Linked DNA regions of Homo sapiens: regions 2 and 3 are each linked to region 1. Evidence: fine-mapped expression QTL. A gene starts in region 1. Each other region holds a variant in brackets. All regions are shown on one strand. Distances are from middle to middle.

Evidence for each region.
Region 2: its variant is fine-mapped to the expression of LINC01954 in atrial appendage (GTEx, PIP above 0.99). The same link has a PIP of 0.9 or more in left ventricle.
Region 3: its variant is fine-mapped to the expression of LINC01954 in Th1 cells (Schmiedel 2018, PIP 0.95).

Annotation. Positions count from the first base shown.
Region 1 is chr2:10,874,576-10,882,754 of GRCh38, forward strand. It overlaps LINC01954 (long intergenic non-protein coding RNA 1954), which reads left to right and starts at 3,692. Exons shown (of 2, transcript NR_110575.1): 1 at 3,692-3,869.
Region 2 is chr2:10,900,846-10,909,024 of GRCh38, forward strand. No RefSeq gene overlaps it. Among named protein-coding and RNA genes, the nearest start is that of KCNF1, 7.0 kb to the right of the region's middle. RefSeq lists enhancers at 1,024-1,594, 8,134-8,179. The variant G/T (reference allele first, on the strand shown) is at 3,883.
Region 3 is chr2:11,683,661-11,691,839 of GRCh38, forward strand. It overlaps a transcript of LPIN1 not described here. Among named protein-coding and RNA genes, the nearest start is that of NTSR2, 18 kb to the left of the region's middle. RefSeq lists an enhancer at 4,251-4,750. The variant C/T (reference allele first, on the strand shown) is at 4,783.

The sequences.
Region 1 (8,179 bases):
GAGTAAGAGATGGCTGCCACCACTCTAGGTAGCACCGAGAAAGAGGGGGATGGTGGCACACAAAGACTGATAGGGTGTAACCTCTCTGAGGGATAGCTTTTTGTTGTTGTTTGTGTTTTCTTTGAGACGGAGTCTTGCTCTGTCATCCAGGCTGGAGTGCAGTGGCGCGATCTCGGCTCACTATAGCTTCTGCCTCTTGGGTTCCAGTGAATTCTCCTGCTTCAGCCTCCCGAGTAGCTGGGATTACAGGCATAAGCCACCATGCCTGGCTAATTTTTGTATTTTTGGTAGAGACGGGATTTTACTATGTTGGCCCAGCTAGTCTCAAACTCCTGACCTCAGATGATCTGCCCACCTCGTCCTCCCAAAGTGCTAGGATTACAGGCATGAGCCACCACACCCGGCCTCTGAGGGATAGTTTTTAAGGTCAGTGTTTCAGATTTGTTCTTACTCTAGGAGAGATCTTTTTATCTGCTTCTTTTCCTGGTTCTTGCTGGAAAACTAGCCAACCTATGGCTTAGCTTATATCTTTAATGAATCTACTAGTCTTCTCCTAATTGCTTTTCACCACAGCCTCCATTGTGTTTGGCATTGCCTCAGCTTGGAGGAAGCCTCCTCCTTTCAGCTGTACTGGCCCAGAGCTTTGCCTCTGCCGCAAGGGATTGGGGGCAGAATGAGAAATGCTGACATCTTGTTCCTTCCAGGCAAGCAGGAAGACACCATAGCTCTCCAACTAAGAGCTGTGTGTTGCGGGTGGGTGAGCCAGACAGAGCTCTGTGTTCTTGGCTGCACCTGTCTGGAGTGGAATTTCAGTCACTCTGAGGTGGAACTAGGGGAGGAGAGAGTAAGTCGTGGTTCAAATACCACAAATTTTCACTCTTCTTACTGAGTTCTTGCAGATTTTCTTGAGTAAATGTTTCATTTACTCATGCCCTTGGGACTATTACCAGAGAATTTAAATTGTTGGTTTCTTAAAAAAATAATGTTCACCAGTTTCACTGGGGAGCAGGTCCAGGAGCTACTCATGTCACCATACTGGAAGTCGAAACTTAACAGAAATTTTTATACAAACTTCAATTGTTTCTGAATTGCTCTGCTACAGAACGTAAGGCTATTATGTCTATGCTAATGGCTTAAGTATTCTTAGATATAGGTGTCTCAACTGAAACTTTCTGTTAATTAATTAATTAATTATTTTTTGAGATGGAGTTTCGCAATTGTTGCCTAGGCTGGAGTGCAATGGCACGATCTCGGGTCACCACAACCTCTGCCTTCTGGGTTCAAGCAATTCTTCTGCCTCAGCCTCCTGAGTAGCTGGGATTACAGGCATGCATCACCATGCCTGGTTAATTTTTGTATTTTTAGTAGAGATGGGGTTTCTCTATGTTGGTCAGGCTGGCCTCGAACTCCCGACCTTAGGTGGTCCACCCACCTCAGCCTCCCAAAGTGCTGGGATTACAGGCGTGAGCCACCACGCCTGGCCTTTATTTATTTATTTTGAGATGGAGTTTGGCTCTATTGTCCAGGCTGGAGTGCAGTGGCACAATCTTGGCTCACTGCAACCTCAGCCTGCTGGGTTCAAGTGATTCTCCTGCCTCACCCTCCCAAGTAGCTGGGATTACAGGCACGTGCCACCATGCCCAGCTAATTTTGCATTTTTAGTGGAGACAGGGTTTCACCATGTTAGCCAGGCTGGTTTTGAACTCCTGACTTCAGGTGATCTGCCTGTCTCGGCCTCCCAAAGTGCTGGGATTACAGGTGTGAGCCACCATGCCTGGCCTTTCTGTTAATTTAAAGACAAGTGTTAGGAAACTAACTCTGGGATCAGACAAACTTTGGTGTATAATTCAGTTCAGCTAAAGCAAACCACTTCATCTCTCCGATCTTCAGATTCTTCATCTATAAAATGGAAATAACACCTACTTCCTCTTTGTAATAAAAACTCAAGAATTTATTTGGCTTATGTGGTTGCCCAACTAGAGGCAATTTTCCCCAGCTATGCTTATAGCTCGTATAGTCATAAGACTAAGAATTAGCTAATAGAGTGTGACAGAAGCAATCTCTGCAACTTCCAGATCACCGTTTGTTTTTTAAATTAGGAAATTACATGCCTTCCTCCTTTTTCTCTCTCTTTCCTGTGGGTTGAAATGTAGAGGTGATAAAATGAGTGAGTTTTTGTTGTGGAATGAAGATAACACCATAGGGTATTACAAAGCAATAAGACAGGAGGAACTTGAATGTTGGAAGCATTCTTTTTCTTTTCTTTTCTTTTCTTTTTTTTTTTTTTTGAGACAAGGTCTTCTTCTGTAGCCTAGACTGGAGTGCAGTAGCACAATCATAGCTCACTGCAGCCTCAACATCGTGGGCTCAAGTGATTCTCCTGCCTCAGCCTCCACAGTAGCTGGGACTATAGGTGAAAGCCACCATGCCCAGCTAATTTTTTCTATGTTTTATAGGGACAGGGTCTCACTAGATTTCCCGGGCCATTCTTGAATTCCTGACCTCAAGTGATTCTCTTACCTGGGTCTCCCAAGGTGCTGGGATTATAGACGTGACTCACCATGCCTAGCCTGAGTGCTGGAAAAGTTCTGTACTTTGACTTGGGTGGTGGTTACACAGGTGTATACACACATAAAAATTGATTGAGCTATTCTTTTAAGATTTATGTGCCTATTGCATGTAAGTTATACCTCAGCAAGAAAAAAAAGATAGAAGGAAGCTGATTCCTGGAATGCCCTTGTGGAGTGGAAGTCACCTTGGGACTGTTACAAAAGAGAAAAACAAACTCTTATAGTGTTTGGGTCATTGTCTGTAGGGGCGTTTTTTGTTCTAGCCATTTAATGTGTACCTTAATCAATATATTTATTAAGGGTAGGAATTTTTAATTTTAATTTTGACTCCATTACCCCATTACAGAGCTTGGTGAATAGAAGGTACCCAATATCTGTTTAATGAATGCATGTTTTTGTAGATGGCTTTTATCAGCATGTTAGAACATCCAGTATAAATAAATTTAGAAAACAGAAAAAATTACGACATGTAAAGGGAGGGACCTTCTTCCCCGACTTCCCAACCCACCTGACTTCTGAGTACTTCCTTTCAGTGGGATCTGGTGCAGCAGTTTTCAACTTGCTTAAACAAATGACAAGAACGTTCTGAGACAGGAAATGCTATCTGCTCGGCTGATGGTGCCAGCGTGGGGGTGAATGTTAAATGGAGTGCTTGGGGGAGACCCCTGATGCTCATGTCCCCACGACTCAGAATCAGACGCAGAATCACAGTGCTCTAGGTGCTGTTAGGCTCTAGGAACTGGGGGGAACGATCCCATCGCCAACCCTGGAGCAAGGCAGTGTGTTGTAAGAGGGGATGCTGCCGGGAGTGCTCCTGAGTCATTAAGGGAAGGCTGTGAACAGGAGGAGGAAGGGCTGACAACACAGCCCACACCCTGCTGAGCCTCCAAGGGGATGGCTCCCTCGTGCAGTCAGCAAACATTCACTCTGGGAGGACTGGGGGCTCGGCTGCAGAGAGGAGCGGCACACCCACCGCCTCTGTCCTCAAGGAGCTCCCGGTCCAGCTGCCCCCGGACAAATCCTATGTTACCAACAGTATAACAACGCAATTTTATTTACACCGACTAGATGTCCAGCACCTATCAGTAATACGCTATTTTATTTTCACAAACATCTGGCTCATAGATAATGTTTATCGATGAGAAAACAGAAATTTGAAGAGGCAAAGCAAGTTGCCCAAGGCCAAGGGAGAAGGTCAGCGTGAACTGCTACCGCCATGTTGAAGTTCATCTTCTCTTCACTGCGAGAAGCTGCCTGGACACCAGGGTGGAGGAGCTGTCAGGGCCCTCACTGTGGAAGGTGCTGGCAGAGGGTGGGGAGGTGTGGCCTGAGAGGGGCGTCCATAGTCCCTGAACTTGGCCTTCATGAATGAGTGGCGATCCAGTCAGCAGACAAAAGGTGGAATTGGAGTGAGAGTAGGGGGTCATTCTAGACAGCAGGAACAATGTGTGAGAAGGCCCAGAGCAGAGAAGGCAAGGCATGTGGCAGCTTGGTGTCACGGAAGCCTGGGGTGGGCAAGGGGCTGGGGAGGCCTGGGAGTTGAGGCCAGGGAGGCGAGCAAATGTCTGGTGGGGCCTCCCTTTGGGGTGAACCCCTACACTGGTCCAGAGGCAGAGGGTCGGTTGTCTGTCAATAGGATGAAATTCCTGTTAGTCGGGGTGCCCACTCATTCACTGAGCACGAGCAGGGGTCTCTGCGGGGCCTGGTGTTGGCCTGTGGCTTGGTGAGACACCCTCTCTGGAGGGGCACCCAGACTCTGTGGTCCCTGCCTGGCCCCTCCTTCTATGTCACCTTCCTGGGGTACCACAGATGCATGCCAAAGACCCCCACTTCTCAAAGTACGTTTCATGGCACACTGAGTTTTTTTGAGGAAAAAGGTTTGTGGTAAAATAAATGGAGACAAGGGGGTGATTGCCTCCTCCTTCTTGGAACTTCTTGCAGGTTAGCTTGTTCAAGTCTCTGAAAAGTAAAATGGTTATGGACGTTGTGTGTGTGAGTGTCCCAGTGTCCCAGTGTCCTGGGGCTGCTGTAAGAAAGCACCACGCTGGGGCTTGAGCAACAGACATCGATTCTCTCACAGTTCTGGAGGCCGGAAGTCTGAGATCCAGGAATCGGCAGGGCCGTGCCCCATCTGGAGGCCTAGGGAGGGTCCTTCCTGCTCCTCCAGCTGCTGGTGGCTGACAGTCCATGGCGTCTGTGACGTCTGTGGCATCCGTGGCACCTCAGGCTTGCTTCTGTCCTCATGTGTCTCTGTGTGTCTCTCTCCTAAGGACACAGTCACACTGGATTAAGGGCACACCCTAGTGCAGCAGGACATCTTATTTTAACTAATCACATCTTCAGCAAACCTGTTTCCAGTGAAGGTCACCTTCTGAGGTGCTGGTGAGGCAGGAGAATAGGGTTTGGAGGCGGGGAACCTAAGGCCGTTTCAAGCCGACTTCCTAGAACTGAATTGAAAGGAAACACCTAACTTTCCAGGACTAAGTAACAAAAGGACCAGAGGCTACTCCCTGTGCAAAACCCCCACCTTTTCTGCACCACAGATGGGAAATTGGTTTTCCGCAACCAGTCAGACTGATTGCCGGGCCGCTGAGTCTTCCTTTGCATAGAAATGCAACTTTGCAACTTCATCTTAGCCTCTGATTGGTTGCTTTTTGCAGCCAATCAGATGTTTGCACAGGAGCGTGATCTTGGTAACTTCATTTCAGCTTCTGATTGGTTGCAGAAAGCAACCAATTGTGGGCCAGCACTTCATTTACATAATATGATCACCAAGTGGCCAATGGGAAACGTGTAGAGAGTATTTGGACCCTAGAAGATTCCAGATCTGGGCTCTTGAGCTGCTGCTCAGTCCACTCTCACACTGTGGAGTGTACTTTCATTTTCAATAAATCCCTCCTTTCGTTCTCTTGTTGTTTCATTCTTTCTTTGCTTTGCTGGGCGTTTTGTCCAATTCTTCGTTCAAAAAGCCAAGAACCTGGACAGCTTGCCGTCACGACCCTCTAGTGGTAACACTGGGGGTTAGAATCTCAACAAAGCTTTCGGAGGGGGCACGATTCAACCCATGACGCTTCAACCTGGAATTTCCCACAGAAGTCATTTTTTTCCTCAGAACTCTTTCTGAAAATGCCCCCTCCCCACCCGCCCCACCCACCATCCCTCAGACCTGGTGGCTGGAGCAGCTCCCTTTGGGAAATGCTTCCTGTGGTGAACAGGATGGAGCTCCCCATGGGGACAGGGCCGTAGAGGAGGCCTCTAGGGCAGGAAGGGGAGTCCGGCGCCACCTGGGGCCCTGGCAAAGGAGGCGGCCGCAGAACGGGGACACAGGAGGGAGGAGGGTGGGGACCTGTTCATCAAGCCCTCCCTTCCCAGGCCGTCCTGGGCCCAGGGGCTGCCTGGTGGCTTCAAAATGCAGCCAGTGTGGGTTGGGCCGGGTTGGGTCCAGGATGTCAAACTCCCAGGAACTCTGTCTGCCTCATGACCTGGTGTGGAGGCCACCGCTGAGCAACGTCCAGTGTGTCCTGGTCACATCTGGGCCCGCACCACCTCACAGGCTCCCGGTGCGAAGGAGTGGGCGGCCTTTTCAGATTCGCCAGAGCTGGTTTGCGGAAGCTCCCAGAACAGACCACGGTCTGTAACAAGCTTACTTCCTGCCCATGAATTTTTCCCTCGACAGGGCTTACAATTAAGTCCATACCCCCGCCTCCCGCCTGGCTTTCACTTCCTTGCTTTTGGAGAGAAGATGAATGGAAATGTATGACTTTGTCTGTGGTATAAAGACATGGATTCAAGTTCAGGGTTTGCCATGGACCTGCCGTGTGACCTTTGGTAAGATCTTTCACTTCATTTTCACATTTATAAAACAGAAGCAATGATAATACTGGCCCTGCCGGCCTTCCGCATGTGTCTGTGGCTGTGGCGAGTGACACGAGCATGAGAAACAGCATCATGAGCATGATAACAGCCACTTTCCTCATCTCCATTCTGTGCCAGCGACTGTCATAGAGGCAGGGGCTCTAAAAGTTCCTCATCAGGTACAGTGCACGCATGCACCGTGTGTGTGATAGAAATCTTTATTTATAGCCCTCCATACAAAAATATGGCATTTAGTCATGGATTAATCAGCAGAAATTGGTATATATAGTGCTCTTTTTCTCTCATTTTAGTGATAAGCTTTTGCTAAAAAAAAAAAAAAGGAGGAAACCATCACTGAATATGGTAATGATAATACTTAAAAAATTTTAAAGTCAGGTTTGTTGAGGTGTAATTTGCATACTGTGAAGTTTAGTTGGACAGTTTTGTAAGATTTGCAAAATGTATAGAGTTGTGTCAACACCACCACAATCCACAATCCAGACAGAATATTTTCATCACCCCCAAGCGATCACTCTCATCCCGTTTGAACTCAATCACTCTTCCCATCCCCAGCTCCTGGCAACAGTGGCTTAGATTTCTGTCCTTAATGGTTTTGCCTTTTTCTGAGTGGCACATAAAGGCAATCATACAACAGCCTTTTGTATCTGACCTCTTTCACTTAGATTATACCTCTGAGTGTGATCCATGTTGTTGACTGTGTCCGCCATTCCCTCTTTTTCCTTGCCGAGTGGTATTCCCTGGTGTGGATATGCCAGTGTGTTCATTCTTTCACCTGCTGAAGGACATCTGGGCTGTTTCCAACTTGGGTCTATTACAAATACAGCTCTTCTGAACATCTATGCAGAAGTCTTTACATGGACATCTATCTATACATTGTTAACATTTAATTTAATTTAATTTTAAGTTCCAGGATACATGTGCAGGATGTGCAGGTTTGTTACACAGGTAAACATGTGCCATGGTGGTTTGCTGCACCTATCAACCCGTCATCTAGGTTTTAAGACCCGCATGCATTAGCTATTTGTCCTAAGGCTCTCCCTCCTCCTGCCCCCACAACAGGCCCAGTGTGTGTTGTTCCCCTCCCTGACATGGACATCTATATTTTTTCCTCTAGGAGTAGAATGGCTGGATCTTATGGATCTTAACTTTTTTTTTTTTTTTTTTTTTTGAGACTGAGTTTCGCTCTTGTTGCCCAGGCTGGAGTGCAGTGGTGCGATCTCCGCTCACCGCAACCTCCACCTCCTGGGTTCAAGCGATTCTCCTGCCTCAGCCACCCGAGTAGCTGGAATTAGAGAACCGCTCCCCTCCCCAGGACTTTCACCCCACAACTCACAGCCATCAGAAAAGGCAGCTGTGGAACAGCTGTGGAACAGGAGCACTGGCCTGGGAGTCTGTCATCATGTCACCTTTCTGAACTTATTTTTCTTCTCTGTAAACCTGGAATAGTTGTCATCTCTTCCATCATCATTAGGAAAACTAAGCTGGAAACTGCATATAACTTTGAACACAAGGCCTAGCAGAAACTGAGTTCCCTCATAACAGATCACTCCCTCCCTGGGTTGTCTGCGTGATAGAAGTTTATTTCTCTCTTGTTTTTGGATCTTTCCAAAACAAAATAATGCACAGGATTGCTGAGATGGGAACACAGCAATGCAGGGTACAGAGCTGCTTTTGACTTGGGAAACACCAGGAGAACCTCATTTAATGAAATACCCACTAATGTCCACCATGTG
Region 2 (8,179 bases), 26 kb after region 1:
GTGTTACTTTAAGCTTCTATGTTTGATGTAATTTGTACCCAGTAACAGAAAATTGATAGACTGTGTATCATTCTGACCTTTGGGCAAGACGGAAGTCAGGGATGTAAATAAAAGCCTTCCTTTCACATTACATTTTTTTTTTTTTACAATAAATAGATAACAATTTTGCAATTAAAGTAAAGGAAAATGGGAAAGGATTTGTTTCTGAAGAGTTTTCTTCAATCATTTTGTTTACTTTCCTAGTGTGCTTTAAAAGCAAGCACAAAAGCCAACAGCAGCCCCACGCCCCACTACTCCAACCTGGCAGGCCACAGGCAGGAACATTTATCCTTCTTGGTCTTGTTTCCTAACTGCTTTTCTCTCTTCCCAGATCTCAGGCCCAGAGGGGTCCTACCCGCAGCCTCTGGGGCAGCTGAATGCGCCCAAAGCCTCTGACATCTTTCTACACATCTGGGGTGTGTGGCAACCCTGTCCCGGTCCTCCCACCTGCCTGCAGGCAGGATGAGTCATGGCTGAACAGAAGCCATGGGAAGCAGAGGCAGAGGCGAGCAGACTTCAGGAAACGTGCCCACCTCGGGAATGGGAACAAGGAAGTCACCCCTCCCGCTCTCCTCCCCCTGCTCTTCTTGGCCTTGGCAGGTTCAGCAGCTTGTCGATTACAAAGCTGTTCATGCCCAATAATGTATTTGTTCCTATAAGATCTTATAGCCAGGAAGGAAAGAGTCATTAGCTCCATTTTACTGATGAAAAAATTGAGGCATAGAAAAGAAAAAAAATGCTTAGAAGCTGGGGTGAAAAAAATGAAGTTTCCTGATGATTCAGTTTGACATCCTTCTCTACCCACCTCCATCCAGCACCGCCTCCCACCCAGCTGCCTCATGCACTTGACTTCCAGGGGCCATGGTATTCAGACAGGAGTAGACCAGCTGGGTCTTTCTGTCAATCAGCTCTTCTTGGTGGAGGTGGGGAAGGGGGATGATGAGGGGAGGGGGATGATGAGGAGAAGGAGCGGGGGTGGGGACGGGGCAGCTCCCTGATACCGATGGGTACACAGCAAAAAATGAAATGTAAATTTTCAATGGAGTACAGAACTGAATCTTTTTTTTTTATTTATTTATTTTTTATTGATAATTCTTGGGTGTTTCTCACAGAGGGGGATTTGGCAGGGTCATAGGACAATAGTGGAGGGAAGGTCAGCAGATAAACAAGTGAACAAAGGTCTCTGGTTTTCCTAGGCAGAGGACCCTGCGGCCTTCCGCAGTGTTTGTGTCCCTGGGTACTTGAGATTAGGGAGTGGTGATGACTCTTAACGAGCATGCTGCTTTCAAGCATCTGTTTAACAAAGCACATCTTGCACCGCCCTTAATCCATTTAACCCTGAGTGGACACAGCACATGTTTCAGAGAGCACAGGGTTGGGGGTAAGGTCACAGATCAACAGGATCCCAAGGCAGAAGAAGTTTTCTTAGTACAGAACAAAATGAAAAGTCTCCCATGTCTACTTCTTTCTACACAGACACGGCAACCATCCGATTTCTCAATCTTTTCCCCACCTTTCCCCCCTTTCTATTCCACAAAGCCGCCATTGTCATCCTGGCCCGTTCTCAATGAGCTGTTGGGTACACCTCCCAGACGGGGTGGTGGCCGGGCAGAGGGGCTCCTCACTTCCCAGTAGGGGCGGCCGGGCAGAGGCGCCCCTCACCTCCCGGACGGGGCGGCTGGCCGGGCGGGGGGCTGACCCCCCAACCTCCCTCCCGGATGGGGGGGCTGGCCGGGCGGGGGGCTAACCCCCCCACCTCCCTCCCGGTCGGGGCGGCTGGCCGGGCTGGGGGCTGACCCCCCCACCTCCCTCCCGGACGGGGCGGCTGGCCGGGCGGGGGGCTGACCCCCCCACCTCCCTCCCGGACGGGGCGGCTGGCCGGGCGGGGGGCTGACCCCCCCACCTCCCTCCCGGACGGGGCGGCTGGCCGGGCGGGGGGCTGACCCCCCCACCTCCCTCCCGGACGGGGCGTCTGGCCGGGCGGGGGGCTGACCCCCCCACCTCCCTCCCGGACGGGGCGGCTGGCCGGGCTGGGGGCTGACCCCCCCACCTCCCTCCCGGACGGGGCGGCTGGCCGGGCGGGGGGCTGACCCCCCCACCTCCCTCCCGGACGGCTGGCTGCCGGGCGCAGACGCTCCTCACTTCCCAGATGGGGCGGCTGCCGGGCGGAGGGGCTCCTCACTTCTCAGACGGGGCGGCCGGGCAGAGGTGCTCCTCACATCCCAGACGGGGCGGCGGGGCAGAGGCGCTCCCCACATCTCAGACGATGGGCGACCGGGCAGAGACGCTCCTCACTTCCTAGATGGGATGGCGGCCGGGAAGAGGTGCTCCTCACTTCCTAGGTGGGATGGCGGCCAGGCGGAGACGCTCCTCACTTTCCAGACTGGGCGGCCTGGCAGAGGCGCTCCTCACATCCCAGACGATGGGCAGCCGGGCTGAGATGCTCCTTACTTCCCAGACGTGATGGCGGCCGGGCAGAGGGGCTCCTCACTTCCCAGACTGGGCGGCCGGGCAGAGGGGCTCCTCACAACCCAGACGATGGGCGGCCAGGCAGAGACGCTCCTCACTTCCCAGACGGGGTGGCGGCCGGGCAGAGGCTGCAATCTCGGCACTTTGGGAGGCCAAGGCAGGCGGCTGGGAGGTGCAGGTTGTAGCGAGCCGAGATCACGCCACTGCACTCCAGCCTGGGCACCATTGAGCACTGAGTGAAGGAGACTCCGTCTGCAATCCCGGCACCTCGGGAGGCCGAGGCTGGCGGATCACTTGCGGTTAGGGGCTGGAGACCGGCCCGGCCAACACAGCGAATCCCCGTCTCCACCAAAACCAGTCAGGCGTGGCGGCGTGAGCCTGCAATCGCAGGCACTGGGCAGGCTGAGTCAGGAGAATCAGGCAGGGAGGTTGCAGTGAGCCGAGATGGCAGCAGTACAGTACAGCTTTGGCTCAGCATGAGAGGGAGACCGTGGAAAGAGAGGGAGAGGGAGACCGTGGGGAGAGGGAGAGGGAGAGGGAGAGGGGGAGGGGGAGGGAGAGGGAGAGGGAGAGGGAACTGAATCTTAATGAAAGGTATTATTCAATTCAGCAAAACACAAGGAAATTTTAACTGAGCAGAACTGATTAGCCCATAAAAAGGAATAGATTACAGCTTGCATCATTTGCCGTCTAGACAAATCACTTAGATACACAGGCACTGGTTTTAATTACTGCCATAGAAATCTAGCATTCTGTAGCCCAAAATGGTATTGTTCAACAAATAAAAAAAATTTTTAATGAGAAAATGCAGCTCAAACAACTACTTCCCATTATGCCTAAATAAACTGTTCCCCCACCCTTTATTTAAATAAGAAACCCGCAAGGTAAAATTGCTGCTTCTTCTATGTCTAATAGATTTTGTGCTCTACGTCCCTTCCCCCATGGCATCATGAAATGTATAATTCTCATAGAAGGTCTATGCTGGACTGAATACATCACAGCAAGAAGCTTTCCATTTTTAGCCAAAAAGTTCAGACTTTTTTTTTTTTTTTCTGGTTTAACCCTTCAGGAAATTCTAAATGGATCCAGGCTGCTGGCTCAAGTTTCTATGCAACAATGACCTTCAGTGAGAAAGCAGCATGTTGATTTTTCTCTTTTTTTCCTAATCCATGGGATCCCAGCCTCGCCTTTCCAAACAGGATCTATATGGTCAGAGGACAAAGGGCCTGTTTCCAGAGCTTTGAGAAGAGGAAGGCAGAGGCGGCACTTAGCAAGTGTGAGGGAAGGAGAACGTACTAGTCAGCTTGGGCCGTGTAACAAAGCACCACAGACCTCAGGCTTCAACAATAGGCATTTATCGTCCAAGATCAAGGT[G/T]CTGGCAGGTTTCATTTCTTTGAGGCTTCTCTCTTTGGCTTGCAGATGGCCACCTTCTCAATGTACCCTCACGTGGTGAAGACAGAGAGCAAGGTCTCTCTACCTTCTTCTTCTAAGGCCACTAATCTTGTTGGGCTGGGGCCCCAACTTTATGGCTTCATTTAACCTTCATTATCTCATTAAAGGCCCCATCTCCAAATAGCATCACATTGGGGGTTAGGGCGTCCACGTACGAATTTGGAGGGGGTGGTACAAAAACATTCAGTCCATAACAGAGGCAGTAGTACAGGCTTGGGGAGAGCACTGGGCAAGGAGTCAGCCAACCTGATCTGCAGGCTCCGTTTGCTCTGGCCTGGGAGGACAAGTGGAGTTTGTGGGATTCCAGGTGTGGGGCACTCTGGGCCTGGGCATGTCAGTAGACCAGAATGTGGACTTGCCAGGGTTTGATGAGGAGGTGGGGTGTGCAGCATGCAGGGGTAAAGGGAAAATGCCTGTGTCCTGACCGTGGAAGGAAGACCATCCTCTGACCCCCAAAAATCTCTCTAGCCACGGCCCAGCCCTGCTCAGTTCCCAGGTGCTTTTCACCTCCCATCAGTCTGCCCACAAGTCTGGGGCATGCCCAGGGGACCATGTCTTTCTCACCGCCACGCCCCAGACACTGCTGAAGCCTGGCTCTGTGGGACAGCTGAGCAAATTAAGGCTCATCAGAGACCATGAAGGTCCTGTGGTTTCAAAGTTATGTGGGTTCTGTTTGGGCATAATGAAGCATTTTCTCATTCCTTCCCTCCACATGCCTGCCTAGCACCTGCATGTCCAGGCCCGATGCTGGGCACCGTCACAGAGAAGAATAATCCAGATTGTACTGGGGCTGGAGTTGGGGGCAGACAAACCAGTGGTGCATGAACTGACCCTGTGCCATAGGACAGCTGAGGGCTCTGTGAGCACATAGGGAATGGGCCCTGATCCCTTGGGGAAAGGAGGGCTGGAGAGGGGTGCAGTCCCTGGAGACCTCCTGGAAGTGGTGACACTGAGGACTGAGCTTTGAAAGGGTGGAAAGAATGACCCCAGGGACGGGTGAGGGCAGCACTGCAGTAGAGGGCACAGTTAGCGTGGAGCATGCAGAGACCAGTGCAGTGCGGGGCCTGGAACCCTGGTGGGGACTTTCCTGCCTCTGTCTATGCTACTGCCTTGTCTGCCTGGGAGGCCTGGCCCTACTCCTCACTGCCCACGCCCACCTGACCTGGCTCAGCTTCCCCAGACTCCATCTGCCCAACATGGCAGCCACTGACCACAGGGGATTATCACCACAATTTGGCTTATCCATGCAACGGATATGATCAGCCATAAAAAGGGATGAAGTACTGACACATGCCATGCACCGATGAACGTTAAAAACGTTAAGTGGCCAGGCGCGGTGGCTCACGCCTGTAAGCCCAGCGCTTTGGGAGGCTGAGATGGGTGGATCACCTGAGGTCAGGAGTTTGAGACCAACCTGGTCAACATCGTGAAACCGCATCTCTACTAAAAATACAAAAAGTAGCTGGATGTGGTGGCGTGTACCTGTAATCCCAGCTACTAGGGAGGCAGGAGAATCGCTTGAACCAGGAGGCGGAGGTTGCAGTGAGCCAAGATTGTGCCACTGCACTCCAGCCTGGGCAACAGAGTGAGACTCTGTCTCAAAAACAACAACAAACAAACAAACAAACAAAAAATCCATGGTAAGTTGTAAGTGAAAGATACCAGTCACAAAAAGTCATATATTATAGAATTTCATTTACATGATATTCCTAGAATAGGCACATTCATAGACAAAAAGTATTCTAGTGGGTGTCTAGGGCAGGGGGAGGTTGGGGGTCATGGCTAAAAGGTGTGGCATTCATTTTGGGGGTAATGAAATGTTCTAAGATGAACCAGTGCTGATAGCTGCACGGCTCTGAATACACTAAAAGCCACTGGTGTATCAATCGTATGGAATGTGAAGTGCATCTCAACAAAGCTGTTAAAAATCAAATATAATTGAAATAAAAATTCAGCTACTCGGGTGCACTAGGCCCATGCCAAACACTCAGCAGCCATGTGCAGCTGCGGCTACTGTACTGGATAGTGTGGGTAAGGAGCCCTTCAGTCATTCTGAGAGCTCCACTGGACAGGCTGGACCTCCCTGGACAGCCAGGCCTCCCAGATGTCCCCTTGGAGGCTCCCAGATGTCCCTTCAGTCACTGGCCTAGCAGTCATCTTTCACAATTGGCACTGCTTTGAGGTCTCCACACAAATCCTCTAGCTCTGCAGATGTAGCACCTTCGTCCATCTCATCTCTGCTCTGTTCTCAGCGCCCAGAACAGAGCCTGGAATGCAGTAAGAACCACCCCTGCCGGTTCAAAAGACGGGTGCATGCACCTTCTCTGTGAGCTTTCCCCTAGGCCCCACGCTGATTCAGAGCCTCCCTTTTCCAGGGTAGCCCTTGCACTTGGCTCATACATCTCCTAGCAGCTGGTCCCCACCTGCTCTCCACCTATCCCAGCACCTGGTCACCACCTGTCCCAGCACCTGGTCCCCGCTTGTCTCAGCACTGGGCCCCCACCTCTCCTAGCACTTGGCCCCCACCTGTCCCAGCATCTGGTTCCTATCTGTCCCAGCACTTGCTCCCCACCTGTTCCAGCACCAAGTCCCCACCTGTTCTAGCACTGAGTCCCCACTGTATTCTGTAGCCCCATCACCGTGTACTGTGGCAGTCTCCTTATTCCACAGATGAAAAATTGGAGGCTTAAAGAAGTTACAGCTTGCCGGCCCGGCGTGGTGGTTCACACCTGTAATCCCAGCATTTCTGGAGGTCGAGGTGGTGGCTCACGCCTGTAATCCCAGCACTTTTGGAGGCCGAGGTGGGTGGATCACGAGGTCAGGAGATGAGACTATCCTGGCCAATATGGTGCAACCTCATCTCTACTAAAAATACAAAAATTAGCCAGGCATGGTGGCGCATGCCTGTAATCCCAGCTACTCAGGAGGCGGAGGCAGGTGAATTGCTTGAACCCAGGAGGCGGGGATTGCAGTGAGCCGAGGTCACACCACTGCGCTCCAGCCTGGACGACAGAAAGAGACTCCAACTCAAAAAAAAAAAAAAAAGTTACAGCTTGCCTAAGGCCACATGTGTTAGTATCTTAAGACTGTCGTAACAGAATACCACAAACTGGGGTGGTTTTAAAACAACAGAAATTTATGCTCTCACAGTTCTGGGGACCAGAGTCCAAAATCCAGGTGTCGTCAGGGTTGGTTCCCTCTTGGGGACTCAGAGGGCTCCATGCGTCTCTCCCATCTTCTGGTGGCTGCCGGCAGTCCCTGCTGTACCATGGCTTGTGGCAGCATCACTCCAACCTCTGCCTGTGTTGCCACGTGGTGTTCCCCCTGTGTATCTGTGTCTCTTCTTACAAGGACACCAGTGATTGGATTTAGGGCCCACCCTACTCCAGGGTGATCTCATCTTCACTTACATCTGCAAAGACCCAACTTCCAAATCAGGTCACATTCACAGGGGCCGGGTTTAAGGCTTGAGCATATCTTTTGAGAGGACACAGTTGAACCCACAGCCTCATACCACCAGTAAGTGTCAGAGCTTGGCAAGGCCTCCACCTGTAGCCTCTCTGTTCACTATGCTATTCAACAAATGACAACGTGTGAATATGTAAGTCCATGTCACCCATTTAACAGCCCGGGAAACTGAGGGGCACATGAATGCCAGCCTTCTGCTCCCCCATCTAAGGATACAGGGCTGATCCTCACAGAGCAGGATTTGTGTCTCTGCCTCTTCTCTTCCCTCCCCTGGCTTCTGGCTGCAGGCTGGTCTCGCACCTCCAGCCTTGACCTGCTATTTACAGCTGTTTCTTTCTCTTGCCCCTGTTGTCATTGGGCACTTGCTCTCCTGTGGGCTGTGTGCGGACATTCTCTCTGCTGGGCTTTGCATCTGCTGCCCCTCCCCTCCCACTTCTGCACCAGACCAGCTTTCTCCCCACTGGGCCTGGGATTTGCTGAATGGACTTGGAGTCAGAGTCAGCCTCTGGCTGCTATGACCTGATTCAAGCCGTATTTATTTTTCCACGTCTGATATTCTCTGTTATTTTCTAATACTCAATACGTTAATTTCACAGCCAGCTACTGAGCCACGACCTAAAGTATGAAGTGCTGACTTGTGGTCCAGATGCCTCCAGGGCCGCTGAGACCCTCCGGGGTCTGTTTCCAGCTGACTCCACCAGCCTCAGGCCTGCCAGCCTCACCTCCAAACCGTGTGGCCCTTTCAGCTGAG
Region 3 (8,179 bases), 810 kb after region 1:
GCGTGGCTTCCCCCCAATGCTGTGGTCGTCGAGGTAAGCAGATTTGCCCTGCCCTGCCCTGCACTGCCGCTCTGTTCCTCCAGGACGGCTGGTGTTTATGTGAACATCCTGCTGCACCTGAGGAAGGGACAGGTGTGGTGAAAGCCAGGCTTTGTCATCCAGGTGCCCTGGCTTGGAATCCTGGCTCTGCTGCTTCTAAACTGAGCTGTGACCTTGCCCAAGTTGCCTTGAGCCTCTCCCAGCCCTGGGCTCTTCATCTTTAAACTGGGGCTGATGACGCTGCTTTACCAGCCCAGCATGGGGGTGAGTGAGGTGAGCTCGGAAGAGTCTTCTTACTTTTCTCATAGCAGCTGCATGAAAGGTGGATTAGAAGAAGCTGCCAGGCAAAGTATCCATTTAGTGAAAATTCAGTGTGAACTGTACAGTCTGTGAACCTCTGGCAGGTATCACGCTGTCTCTTGTGATCCGAATGGCAGCTCTGGGTCTGGGCTGGCTTCTGGAGCTGGAGCCCCCACCCTTCCCAGTGCCAAGGCTGCTTCTGACGTAGTAAGCAGGTGTGTCTGCTAGAGCAAGGGCCAGCCAGGGTGATGGACTCTCTTGTCTCCTGGGCTCAACCAATCCTCCCACCTCATCCTCCCAGGTAGCTGGGACTACAGGTGTGTGCCACTGCAACCAGCTAATTTTTTTTTAAAGTTTTTGTAAAAACAAGGTTTCTCTATGTTGCCCAAACTGATCTTGAACTCCTAGCCTCAAATGATCCTCCTGCTTTGGCCTCTCATAGTTCTGGAATTACAGGCATGAGCCACTGTGCCCAACTCTCTTGTTTTTGAAGGAAGAACCAGAGTAACACAGAGCTGGAGGGTGGTTGGCATGGAGTATTGGTGCCAAAGTTTTCACTGACCCGTGGTGAACAAAGAAAATAAGACAATGTTGTGGGGTAGATATGTTCATGTGACTTGGCCCATTCAAATTCCCTGGGAAAGACTATTATTTATCCTGGGAGAAGGCATTTTCTATTTTGGGGAGGTTAAAGTATCTTTTATGAAAAGAAAAATACTTTCCTTCCATCCCTCCCTCCCTCCCTCCCTTCCTTCCATTGTTTTTCATTTTTTAAGATTAAAAGTTGACAACCTTATGTCAGTTACCACGCATGCTCCCTGAAATGAAAATTGTAAAAGATTATTGTCTTTTCACTCATTTGCTTATTCTAGTAATAAATATTCACTAGGCGACACTGTGGCCGGCACTCTTCTAAGCACTGGAAATGAGCCGTGAATAAAACAAACATCCTGCCCTCCTGGAGCTTACAGTCCAGGTGGGGGAGAAAAGAATAAGCAAGTGTCTAAGTAACATGCATGTCAGATGGGGAGAGGGGTTGTGGAGAAAAAGAAAATGGGGAAAGGCAACGGGGAGCCCGAGACGGGAGGATGACGTAATTTTCAATGGGGAGGTTGGGGAGGTCACAGAGAAGGTGACATGTGAGCAAAGACTTGAAGGAGCTGAGGAGTGAGCGGAGGCCTCAGGAGGTGTCAAGGGTCCTGAAGCTGAAGCATCTTGGCAGGTTTGAGGAATGCCAAGAGGCCAGTGTGGCCAGAGCTGAGAGGACGGGAAAAGTGGGAGGAGATGGTGTGAGAGCGGTGTGGAGGCTGGCGGAGCACAGGCCAGCATGGAGGCATTGGCCTCGACCCCACCTTGGGGTGTCATGTTAAGGGGACCCACCTCCTGGGCTTTCGGGGCAGGGCAGACATGATGGACCTGTTGGGAGGCTGTTGCAATAATCCAAGTGGGAGGGGATGGTGGTTTGAACTAGGTGGTAGCAGAGAAGGGTTTTGAACCATTTACTCGAATAAACTCTTTAGAATTTTATTGTGCCTCAGTTTACCTTTTAACAGAATTCAGATGAGAAATCTAGGCTGGAGATACAACTTCAGTCCCTGAAATACAGAGTTTAAAAACTCCAGATCTGGTGCATCCTTTTGTTTTAGAGACGGGTTACCGAGTCCCCCCAGAGGGTAGCAGGTGTCTTTTCTAGGCATGCCTATGGCAGAGCTAAGACTAACAGTCACTTCCTGATTTCCCATCGAGGAATGTGTGTAAACTCAGGTACCATTTTGAACTTCCCTTTGCATTTAGATTTGGAATACACTTGGTCTTGTTTCTCGTTCCAGAGATTTCCCTCTGTTTCTCTTTTCTCAGCCCTTCACATTCTCCCCGTGCCTCTGCTTATCCAACCCCATTTCTTCTTTTGGGGTTGCATTCAATTGATAGAGCACTTGGACATCCTGGGAGACAGATTGCCACCACCAATGTCCAGTGACCCTTCCAGGCCTTGTGTAAGTGCAGCCTTCTCCAGCCGCCTGGAAACCCCCCAGCTGGTGGGATACCTACATTCTCAACCACACAGCAGCTCGCTTTTAGAATTTGGCCCCTACTTTCCATTGTGGTTATGTTGGGATGGGCCACTGGCACACAGCAAGCGCCTGGAACTTGCTGAAGAAACAGATGCAGGAATGAAATGACCAGGTGAGCGTGCCTAGGTCTTTGGTGAGCTTTGGCCTGTTCTGGGCTTCATCAATGTGCTGAGGATCCCCGACCCCGCTTTTGGCACTTATCATGTGATCACCCACAGCCCCTGGGCTGTCCCTTTGAGAAAGCCCTGCCCAGCGTGGGTGGGATGTGCCTGGAGAAGGGGGAACCAGAAAGTGGGTGGGCCCAAGAGCAATCAAGAGGTGCTCTGTAGTTAGCCCCCAGGGTGAAACAGGAGAGGAGGGCTAGAACGCTGGGTTGGACGGACTCCGGGAAAGATGGAGGCTGGTGGGGAAGGACGGTGCTGGAGGGTCTGGCACACCTGAGGCCTGTGTGTATTGGCCCTGGACAGAGGTTGTGTGGTGACTTTTGTGGATGGGTTGTCCTCGTTTAAAGGGACAGGAACAGGGTGGGTAGCCATGGCCTGGGCACCACGGGCAGAGCACACACCCGCGGGAAAGAGCACTCTCCTTCTCATGCGAGCGAGCAACGAGATGCCTGTGGCTGTGTTCCGAGGGGGTCTGACGCTCACCTTCTGCTCTCATCACTCCTATGTGAGGACCCATGAATACGCCCCTCACAGTGTTTGCAGTTGGAATGTGTGTCCATTAGTGATTAATCGATATGGGTCCTTTTGTGGGTAAGTAGAGCCCAGGCACTCACCTTTCCTCTTCTGCCCCAGCTGCTGGGGGCAGAGTTTTGTTTGGTGCTCAAAGGCAGGATTATCTGTGGTCTAGATTTCAGGAATCATTCTCTCCACTCCCTCCCAGCATTCTGAATCCTGCTCCATGTCATAGCTTTTGATCCTTTTTTTTTTTTTTTTTTTTTTTTTGAGATGAGGTCTTGGTGCGTTGCTGAGGCTGGAGTGCAGCGTGATCACAGCTCACTGCAGCCTCGAATTCCTGGGCTCAAGTGGTCCTCCCACCTCAGCCTCTTAAGTAGCTGGGACAACAGGTACACACCATCATGCCCAGCTAAGTTTTAATTTTTTTGTAGAAATGGGATCTTGCTCTGTTGTCCAGGCTGGTCTTGAACTACCGTCTTCAAGTGATCATCCCAAAGTGCGTGAGCCACTGGGCCTGGTCCTGATCCTGATCTGTTTTTAAACAATTCTATTACCCAGTTTTGTTTTTCATCATGCTTCTTGAGATCCTTCTAGGCCTTGATAAAGTATATAAGAAAATAATACTGAAAGTTTGAAATAAATACGACTGTGAGACTCTTGTAAGTTGCTCTGCGGCTGGGCTCAGGGAGGGGCAGGCGGATGTGATATCTCCTATAGCATGGACAGCAAGGCAGGGACAGGGGGCTTTGTCTCTGAACTTGGGAAGAGTTTGTTATTACTAGGATGAAGAGAATGAGACTCTGTAGAGGGGAGAATTGCATTTAGTAGGAGAGAAATACAGAGAATCTGAACAGTTCAGAGAATCTGGCTCTATCCCTGACCAAGTGGTTTTGACCAGGCCTGCAATACATTTGTAGCAATGACACCTTCCCCATAGGGCTGTCCATAGACTGCGTGAGACCCTGTGTGGATGCTGCAAGCACAGGGGTGCCCTCAAAAGTAGCCAAGCTCACCAACACTCACGGGGGAGGCAGCATTGGAGACCAGCCTTATCAGGTGGGTGGCTTGTGACATGCACTTTTATTAAATGAGGCCATGGCAGGGCCGCAGCTAAGTCTCTGCAGTTTATGGTCTGCATGGTGTGCTGGCCGAGAGGACACCGGGGGCTGAAACCCAACCTGTGCTTGACTCATCACGCCCTCCGGGCTCTGGGACTGAAGCTGGCTGGGACATTGAAGGGGAAAGGGCACCTTGTTGAAATTTGTCCACCCAGAGGTCCTCTTTGTTAATTCTGCCTGGAGGGACTCTGAGTGTCAGTGGTGGCCCAGGGAGTTGAGCCTCTCCATAGTTCTCAATGCTTCACTCTCCGACGCGGAATTCTTGTTATAGCTGAAAATATCTGCAGGTCCCTGTCTATAAATGGAATAAGAATGGAGCAACTGCTGGAGATAAAAGGACGGAGAGCTTGGAGCCCTCCCTTCTCAAGCTTCCTTTCTTTTTCCTACATCAACCCTGCCACCTCCTTGCCAGCTCCACCCTCCCTCTCCCCACAGTCACCCCAGGGCTCCTTGCAACATCCTTTGAAACTCCTAGAGGAAGTAACCTCCCAGAGCTACCACTCTGGAGTTGCAGGCTAGAATTCTTTTCAGAGCAGCACGGAGTAACAGTCTTCAGACTTCAGGACTGAGACT[C/T]TCTGCATGGCAGTGGCTGGGAGGATCCAGTTTCCACGCCCTGCTGTATTTTTCAGGCCCCGCCTGTTCCTCATTTACCCCGTAAAAGTGCAGCCCTTCGCAGAAACATCTTGCGGTCGCTCGGGTCCCGGTGTCCTGGCCCAGAAATACCCTCTAGAGGGCGCTGTCACGCTGAGACCCGGGACAGGACGCACCGGCGCGAATCAGGGCCCCTCGCCACAGGGGAGTGTTGACAAATGGAAAATGAGTTAATACATACAACATTTTCAGCCGATAATAAGAGAGTTTTGTTGAAATTCTTGAGTGAATTCTCTTTATCTAAGGATAAGGTGATTTGAGTTTCAAAACAGTTCAAAATAAAGGAGAAAGGGACTTGGCTAGTCGGTTTCTTCACCTGATTTGACCCAGGCAGAAATTGAGTTATTAATAGCCATTTGATAGGCACTTCGCAGTTAATGGTGAAGCAAGACGGGATCAAGTTCTAGTTTCTACCCAATTAGAAATGCCCACTGGGTGAGAGGTCACCAGATACAAAGAAAAGGAACAGCAAGTCTTCTATGCTGAACACTGAATTTGAGCAGCCGACTTGTATAATGGTATTTTGCAAACACGACTTATTCCAAATTTATGGATAATTCGAAGTGCTTCGAAAATGAACAATGTCCAGGTTGATTATTGTTTTTGTTTACCGAGTGCTCTCTCTCCATGCCAGGGCCCTATGAGACATTTTCCATATTTTGTCCTACCGATCCTTGTAAGAAACACACAGGTGATTCTTAGCCTCAGTTTACACATGGAGGAGCTTTGAGAGATTAATGAACTGCCCTGGTCGTTTCAAAGTATTCTGATTTTTTCGCATGAATTGCTGATGGCTAAGGCTTTGCCATCTGGAAGTTCTACAATGGACTTTTGAGGCTTAGTATATTTGTCTTCAATATCATCTTGTTGGTTTTAGACCTGACGAGGTCCTTTCAGATTTTGATTTTGTTATCCAACATACTGATTTTGTGACTTTTAAAAATCTGACTGACTTGCTTTCTTTTCTTGACTTCTGTTGAATTTATAATTTTAAAATATAATTTTTCTATCCTCTTTTCTGTTTTTGCTCAGTTAATTCCATAATCACAGAACAAAATTATATTCTTTTAGTGGTTCTCCTTAGCTTTTGAAAACATACCTATAGGCTGGGCATGGGGGCTCATGCCTGTAATCCCAGCACTTTGGGCCGAGGCAGGCAGATTGTCTGAGGTCAGGAGTTCAAGATCAGCCTGGCCAACATGGCGAAACCCCATCTCTACTAAAAATACAAAAAAATAGCTGAGTGTTGTGGCGGGTGCCTGTATTCCCAGCTACTTGGGAGGCTGAGGAGGGAGAATCTCTTGAACCCGGGAGGTGGAGGTTGCAGTGAGCCAAGATCGTGCCATTGCACTCCAGTCTGGGTGACAGGGTGAGACTCTGTCTCAAAAAGAAAAGAAAAGAAAACATACCTGTATAACAAATATTGTCTAACACAGTTTGAATTTATTTATTACTTCTATACTCCTGCCAAACAGGGCCTAGGCCTCAGCTCACTTTGAAAACCATTGGGTACACCCTTATTTTATTAGTCTTGTCCAGAGTTTTAGTTTTTGTTTTAAAGAAAACCTAAAAATTTCAGTTATTGTTTTCAGTAAAAAAAAGAAAAATGTTAATTATAATATGTCCAACCTCTTGTATCTTTATCTACACTTTTTGCATCCCAAACCTTTTGTCTCAGTTCATGATTTCATGGTTCTTCTAGGGACTGTCTATGGAAGACAAATTCCTTTAGTTTTTGTTTATCTGAAAATGTATTTTTTTTTGCACTTTCTTTTCTTGAATGGTGGTTTAGCTCATTATAAAATTATAGGTCAACAGTTGCTTTCCCTCAATATTTAAAAAAGCATTAGTCTTCCATGAGACATTTAAATATTATCCTTTGCCATGTGTGCTCTGTGTTTCACTGTAATGTGTAGGTGTAGATTTATTTTTATTTACTCTTCTTAGTGTTCAGAGTCTGCTTTTTTACTCATCACTCGTTCATCAATTTTGGAAGATTCTCAAACATCTTTTCAACAACTTCTTCTTTGTGATCTCCTTAATTCTCCTTTCTGGCACGATTAGACACAAATTTGAACCTCACTGTATCCTCCATGCCTCCTAGCTGCTGTTTTACTTCTTTCTTAATCTCTTTGACTTGCTGTGCCTGCTGGATGCTTCCTTACTATATTTTACTTCATTAATTCTCTCTTTTATGTTTCCTGTTAGGTTTTATCTACTATATTGATATTTATGTTTTAATTTCAATGACTATGTTTTTCATTTCCAGTATTTCTAATAGATTCTTTTCCTTTATTTCATTGTTTAATTTTTGATATGTTTCTGTTTCATAATTTCTCTTTTTAATGGAGGTTATTCCTTAATCTGTGTCTATATGTATCTCAATTATTCTCATTTAACAGTCATTATCAGATTGTTCAATAACCTGATAATGACTGTTAAATGAAAATAGGATACATCATGATGTAAGTCTATATTCCAAATATTTATTTTGTGTGCTGTCCTTAGCATTAGACATTTTGCTTGAGGGCTCATTTTGAGTGGATTTAAAAATCTTGTTGTGGTTTTTTTTTTTTTTTCTCTCTCCTTTAATACCCCTCACACCAACTCCTAGTCCTTTGTTCTCTAGCAACAAGGCTGGGTGATTTGAGGGTCCACCCTCAGTCCTGTGGTTTGTAGTTGCCTCCCCAGGTCCGGGGGCACAGTCCAGAGCCAGGCCTTATAACAGCACTTCCAAGCTCCCGTCTTACAGTGATATGGGGAAATCTGGGCTCTGAATGAAGCAGCCTTTGGTTTCCTTCCTGCTTGAAAGGTTGGGTCACTTCCCTCTATTGCCTTGGCCCTAAGCAGTAGGGCTGCAGACATGTTTAAGCCTCTTTTCACCAGCATAGGAAATCCCTTCCCAGGATTACCTTCAGTGTGAAGCCTGGCTCCCGTGTCCCATCTATGCTTTCCTCCTCAGGTGCTGACCTCCAGCCATTACCTCTTTCCAGGCCAGAGACTGTGCCGGGCCTGTGGCTTCAGCTCCATTCACCATGCACACTTCTAATCTGTCTTTGGTTCTTGCACACTGACTGCTGTTGGAGCCCGGCTATGTCATATTTGCTTATCCATTGATATACTGTGGGCTTGGATCAGAGGGGGTGATTCAAAATACAAGTTCACTATACCATCTTGACCATGAGCCACAAGCATGCTTTCTCTCCCACTTCAATATTGATCAAATATCTAAGAAGGAAAGAAAGAATAGAGCCAGTGGCCTGGCATGAGAAGCCTCCATCCAAGTTGATTTCCATATTTCTTAGAAATAGGAATGTCT